2 separate regions of the Homo sapiens genome follow, and region 1 is linked to region 2. Evidence: fine-mapped expression QTL. A gene starts in region 2. The other region holds a variant in brackets. All regions are shown on one strand. Distances are between the middles of the regions.

Evidence for each region. PIP is the estimated chance that this variant, and not a neighbour inherited with it, causes the effect.
Region 1: its variant is the best candidate, but not a certain one, in a credible set for the expression of SLC39A12-AS1 in prefrontal cortex (CommonMind, PIP 0.67).

The regions. Positions count from the first base shown.
Region 1 is chr10:18,135,045-18,137,969 of GRCh38, forward strand. No RefSeq gene overlaps it. Among named protein-coding and RNA genes, the nearest start is that of CACNB2, 3.9 kb to the right of the region's middle. RefSeq lists an enhancer at 879-1,845. The variant G/A (reference allele first, on the strand shown) is at 1,546.
Region 2 is chr10:18,009,241-18,012,165 of GRCh38, forward strand. It overlaps SLC39A12-AS1 (SLC39A12 antisense RNA 1), which reads right to left and starts at 1,322. Exons shown (of 5, transcript NR_038419.1): 1 at 1,289-1,322; 2 at 425-513. The region is part of intron 12 of SLC39A12 (solute carrier family 39 member 12); the gene reads left to right.

The DNA of each region.
Region 1 (2,925 bases), 130 kb after region 2:
TGTATACCACTTCCAAGTTTGGACAATACAAACTTGCATGCACCACCATCTACCATCACCTAAGGCACCAATGTCCTTTTTCCTCCTTGTAAGTAACCCCGGTGGGAGTAACATGGTGACGTGGGAGGTTGCATTGTGAAGATGGTAGCTAGTTACTCAAGCCTCGGTTCCTAAATGTCAGCATGATGCAGAGCTATTTCTAATGGGGAACTTCTACTCCAGTATACATTTCTTTCAAATCCATTGAATATTCAGACTGTATGTTATAGCAGTTTGACTTACCCTAATTAACATAGAGGAATAGTGATATCTACCTCACAGGCAAAGACAATGCATTTAAGTTCTTAATAGGAAGCCTGGCGCCTCATATGTAAACAAAAGTATCAGTTGTTATAACAAGGTTTAGATGAGAAATAAATCAGATAGATCATAAATGAATGTGCTTTATAAACTAAAAAGTGCTATATACTATTGAATATTCCAGAGTGCTCTCCTGGGTAGTTTTAGGAACTCATGGAATCTCATTTCTGTGAAGTCTTTTCTCTGGAAGTGAAATTAGGCTTTCTCTGAACACTTGTACATTTCAGTTTTAAACTTTTACTATCCATACAGATACATTCAATCCCATTATAATGGATTTGCTTGCATCTTTATATGCTTTTAAATAGCAGTCTGTAATTCAGGGCATAGGTTTACAAAAAGCAAACATGTAACTTCATGGAATGCATCATACCAAGTCAGGCCAGTGGCCAATACAGCTATATATCCTTATGAAAATGCTATTAATAGTGGTGGAAATTCAGGACTTTCAGTGAGGTGTAAAATGATTTACTGAGTAAAATGAGAAATCATACATGTGTATCTGTCCTAAAAAGCTCTTTCTTTAAGGTGTTAAATGTAGTCACAAATCTGCAAGCAGGAGAGGAAGAATAAAGCACTTGTAATCACTGTTTCTTCCACTTACAGAAAAAATAATCTTTTAAAACGTCTGGCTTCATTAGCCAGTGTCTCTTACCAGCCCCTGTTCCTATTTCAGAGCATTAGTAATTCCCAGAATATGTCTGTCCATTACAACAACTAATGAGCACAAGGAAGCTAACATACAGCTTGAATAAATTAGTCATCTGCATTTGAATGCGTCGATGGCACATCCATTATTGCTGGAGTCTCTTGCATCTGCTTAACTTTTAACATGAAAAGAATTAGGCTTTACTTACCAAATTTTTGCTTTCCTCTGTGGCTTTTAAATATTGCGCAAGTCAAAGAATCTTAAAAACAAGATCAACCGTGATTGAAGGCATCTATACATTTTCCAAGTCTTTTTATTCTGTTTATTCTGATTTTGCTCCCTTTTTCAGGAGTAACATTTTGTTACTCTGTGTTTGAAATCTTTTACAAGCCAGACAAGAGTCTGAATGGGTACATTGTATTGGATTAGTGTTCAATGCATGCTAATTAAACTAGTTTGAGTTATAAAGGAAGAAGTAGTATAATGTTCTCATGGGAGTCAGGCTTAGGTAAATGTTGTCATTGTACGTTAAAACT[G/A]GCAAAGTTGTATGCTGTGTTTTAAGACGCAAGAAGTCATTCAACATTCATGCATTCATTTAGACAACAAATGTTTTCACGTTCTAACTAAGTGGCAGACACCATGCTGGGTGGTGCTGGGGATACTAAGATGAAAAAGACGCCATCACTGCCCTCAAGGAACCCTATCTAGTGGTAGGGAGAAACATAAAAAAACAGGGAGTTCATATTATGAATTATATGAAATGAATATATTGTATTACATTTGAACATTTAATTCAAACTTTACTTGCCCTCTGGTTATAAGCGTTATTAAAATTATTTTCAAGGTTTTGATTTTTTTGCGGTCTCTTTAAACATCTGATGAAAGATGAAATTCTACTTCCCAAATGGTCCTAATTGAAAGCGAATGCACAAATAAGCATGCTATAAGAAACTGGACAGACATCATGAGAAAACACTCAGTTTCACCAAACCTGGTGTTTTTTTTTAAATAATGTTTCTTCTTTTGTTTTCTCCTTCCTTCCTTCCTTCCTTCCTTCCTTCCTTCCTTCCTTCCTTCCTCCCTCCCTCCCTCCCTTCTTTCCTTCATTTATTAATTGGCTTTTAAGTGCTAACTAGCAAGACTGTAAGCCCCATGGAGCTGGTAACCTGGTCTTTGTTGGCTGTGCTCATCAGGTGGCACAAAATAGAAGCTTGATTCATACTTTATTGGATGACTATTGAAAGAACTCAGAGGGCAACTTGCCAGATTCTGAATGTGTCCTAGAGAATAAGTGTGGTTCCTGTCCACACAGAGTTTACAGTCTGAAATGGATTTAATGTTTTCCCTAAGATTTAAACACATGCTCAAGAAAACTTCACAGTTTGATTAAATGAGTAGGCCTAAAACAGTGATATTATCAACAGAGCATGGGGCAAAAGTAGACTATAAGTCGAAAACTTTAAACACAATTTCTTTTCCATTTTCACACACACATACATACAGGCATACATATAAAAGCATGGCTGATTGTTGCTGTTCAAAATGTTCCCATTTTAGAAATTATTACAAACCAATATTTAAGTGCTGCTGTTTAACATTCAGCAAAATTTAAATAAAAGTGGCATTTTAATTTTTTTAATTTTATTTTTCCATAAGTTATTGGGGTACAGGTGGTATTCGGTTACATGAGTAAGTTCTTTAGTGGAGATTTGTGAGAACCTGGTACACCCATCAACCTAGCAGTATACCTTGCACCATATTTGTTGTCTTTTATCCCGTGCCCCCTCCCACACTTCCCCCCAAGTCACCAAAGTCCATTGTATCATTCTTATGCCTTTGCATCCTCATAGCTTAGCTCCCACATGTCAGTGAGAACATATGATGTTCGATTTTCCATTCCTGAGTTACTTCACTTA
Region 2 (2,925 bases):
CCCTACAATGGGGGGAACTGGACAACTGCCCAGGAATTTAGTACATTAATAGAACCCAAGCTGATGGAGGAGCTGTAACTTAGGGAGGGAGCTAATGGAGAAGGAAGTACCTGTCCAATTCATGCCAAAACAAAATAAAACATAGCCCAGGTGCCCCCTCCAGGTGTATCCAAGGCAAATGAATTGGAATAGGGGAAATATCCAATTTCAAACCCTCTTCCCCCATCAACCTCCCTCACCATATAGGGTTCTAGATCTCTTCCCCCACCCTCACGTTTTTTGGATGCTCTTTAAAAACTTCATTTCCTCTCCAAGACTATCCCTTATGTTTCTTCAACCTTATTTTACTTATCTAATAACTTTGCAGGCAGGGGATTGGGGGGAGCAGGAACCTCAAGAATAAAAAGCAGTCAGAGCAATTTACTTATCTTCCCTCTTGTGAGAAGTGTCGCCCAGAAGTAATATCACAGCCAGACCTTTGCCTGGAGGACTTTCAATTTCCAGATAATTTTCCTTAAGTGAAAGGCAGGATAAAAGGTATTTTGAATATGAATTTAAGATCTTCTACCTTTAAAACATATCCAAAAATGCAAAAATCAAACCTGAGTATTCAATCTGGTCAATAAACAGGATTATCAATATAGTTCATCCTCTCTACACTTATTGTAGGTCAGTAAATGTAGCAGCTTCAAGAACATGAATTGGGTAAAAGCAAAAAAACATTAATTGAGTGACAAACATCCACCTTTCTAGCCAGGCTTCTCCTCTCTTCTTCATCATATAACTATAAAATTAAACTAAACTAGAATCCTAGACTTTTAGAATATTGATCCCATTCCCTCCTCCCCATTTTTCTTTCTTTTTCTTGTGATTTACTGAGTTTGAATGAGTCTTTCTTTATCAGAGAAATCTAGACTCCGAGGCAATTCAGTCAAAGATCTGCAATCACCAAGTCAGGTCTGGTAAATGAATCCTTTCTCCATCCAAAAGATGAGTAAGTCTTCCTTTCTTTGAAGTTTGGCAATACCTAAGTGTAATTTCTGTTAAACATCCACCCACAGGAAGAGATTTTGTTTGAAAAAGACATATGAAGTAACCTTGATATACGTATTTGTTTTCAACAAATATTGTAGTTAAAATCAATGAGTTCCATTGGCATCATTTTAAATATCCTTTGGCTGAGAAAGAAATAGCAAGCATTCAAAACTCAATTCAGGCAGCAAAATTAATGTAATTTAACATTCACAATTATTTCTTAACAAAAGCAAGAAGGGTGAATCATTCTTACCCACAAATTTGAAAGACTTCTATTCTCTTTCTGTAAAAATCAGTCAAACCCCACACTTAGAAATTTTCTACTGAGAAAATGAGTAATTAAGCCAACTTTGGTGAACGCTGAATTCTCTCTATAATTAAAAGAAACTGACCATCAGAAATGCTGGTATTTTTCTACTCCTCGTTCCTCTTTTCTTCTAACTAATTTCTCAGATCATACACACACATACACACAGATCTTCCAAAGCAGTTATTTTAAAAATGCAGTTGGCCCTAGAACAACATGGGTTTGAACTGCATGGGTTCACTTATACTCAGATTTTCTTCCACCTCTGCCACCTCTGAGACAGCAAGACCAACCGTTCCTCCTCCTCCTCCGTCCCTTCAATGTGAAGATGAGGATGAAGACCTATATGATTGTCCACTTCTACTTAACTAATAGTAAATGTATTTCTCCTCTTTATGATTTTATTTTCTTTTCATTTCGTTTCTCTTTTCTTCTTTCTTTTCTTTCCCAAAACAAAATAATACAAAGCCCAGGCGCCCCCTCCAGGTATTTCCTCCCTTCCTTCCTTCCTTCCTTTCTTTTTTTGAGACAGAGTCTCACTCTGTCGCTCAGGCTGGAGTGCAGTGGCGCGATCTCAACTTACTGCAGCCTCTGCCTCCCAGGTTCAAGCAATTATCCTGCCTCAGCCTCTGGAGTAGCTGGGATTGCAAACATGTGCCCCCATGCCCGCTTATTTTTATGCTTTTAGTAGAGATGGGGTTTCGCCATGTTGGCCAGGCTGGTCTGGAACTCCTGGCCTCAAGTGATCCACCTGCCTCAGCTTCCCAAAATGCTGGGATTACAGGCATGAGCCACTGCACTCATCCCCCTTATGACTTTCTTAATAACATTTTCTTTTCTCTAGCTTACTTTATTGTAAGAATACTGTATATAATACACAGAGCATATAAAATATGTGTTAATTGTGTTATTGGTTAGGCTTCTGGCCAGCAGTAGGCTATAAGTCGTTAAGTTTTGGGAGAGTCAAAAGTTATACATGAATTTTCAACTGTGCAGGGATCAGCATCCTAACCCCCACATTGTTCAACTGAACTAAAGCTGGCTGACATCTGTCTTTGCTGAGCTTTACGACTAAGAATTTGTCTAACTGAATCACTTCCCCTAAGGAAAAAAAGGAGAAGAGAATTGTTAAATACAAGTTTAAAGCAGGTAACATCTTAGTCTCTCCTAATTGCGTGTGACAGTGATGTGCTCTTTATCTTATAACTCACAGTTTTCAAAAAAATGTAATTTATCTTCTGCAAACTGCTTCATGAATTGCCTTGAGAAGATCCCACTGGGAAGTGATAGACATATAAGATTCTGTATTTGAATTATTCAGCAAATAAAATTTTTAAAGCTGAAGATTTTAAAACAACCTTGAGAATAGCCTCCGGGTTGGCTATCCCATATAAGTTGAGAGCTGTGGTCTTTGCTTTCTTGAATAACAAGGAAGGTTAAAACAGCTATGTTAAGTTGTTTATTGAACATAAATACTAGTTGAAAAAGACCTAAATTCAAAACAGTGGGAACAAACCGCCTGATTTCAGGAGATTCTTGAGTCAACAGAGTGTTGAGGATTCTACTCTTACTAATCAAATATG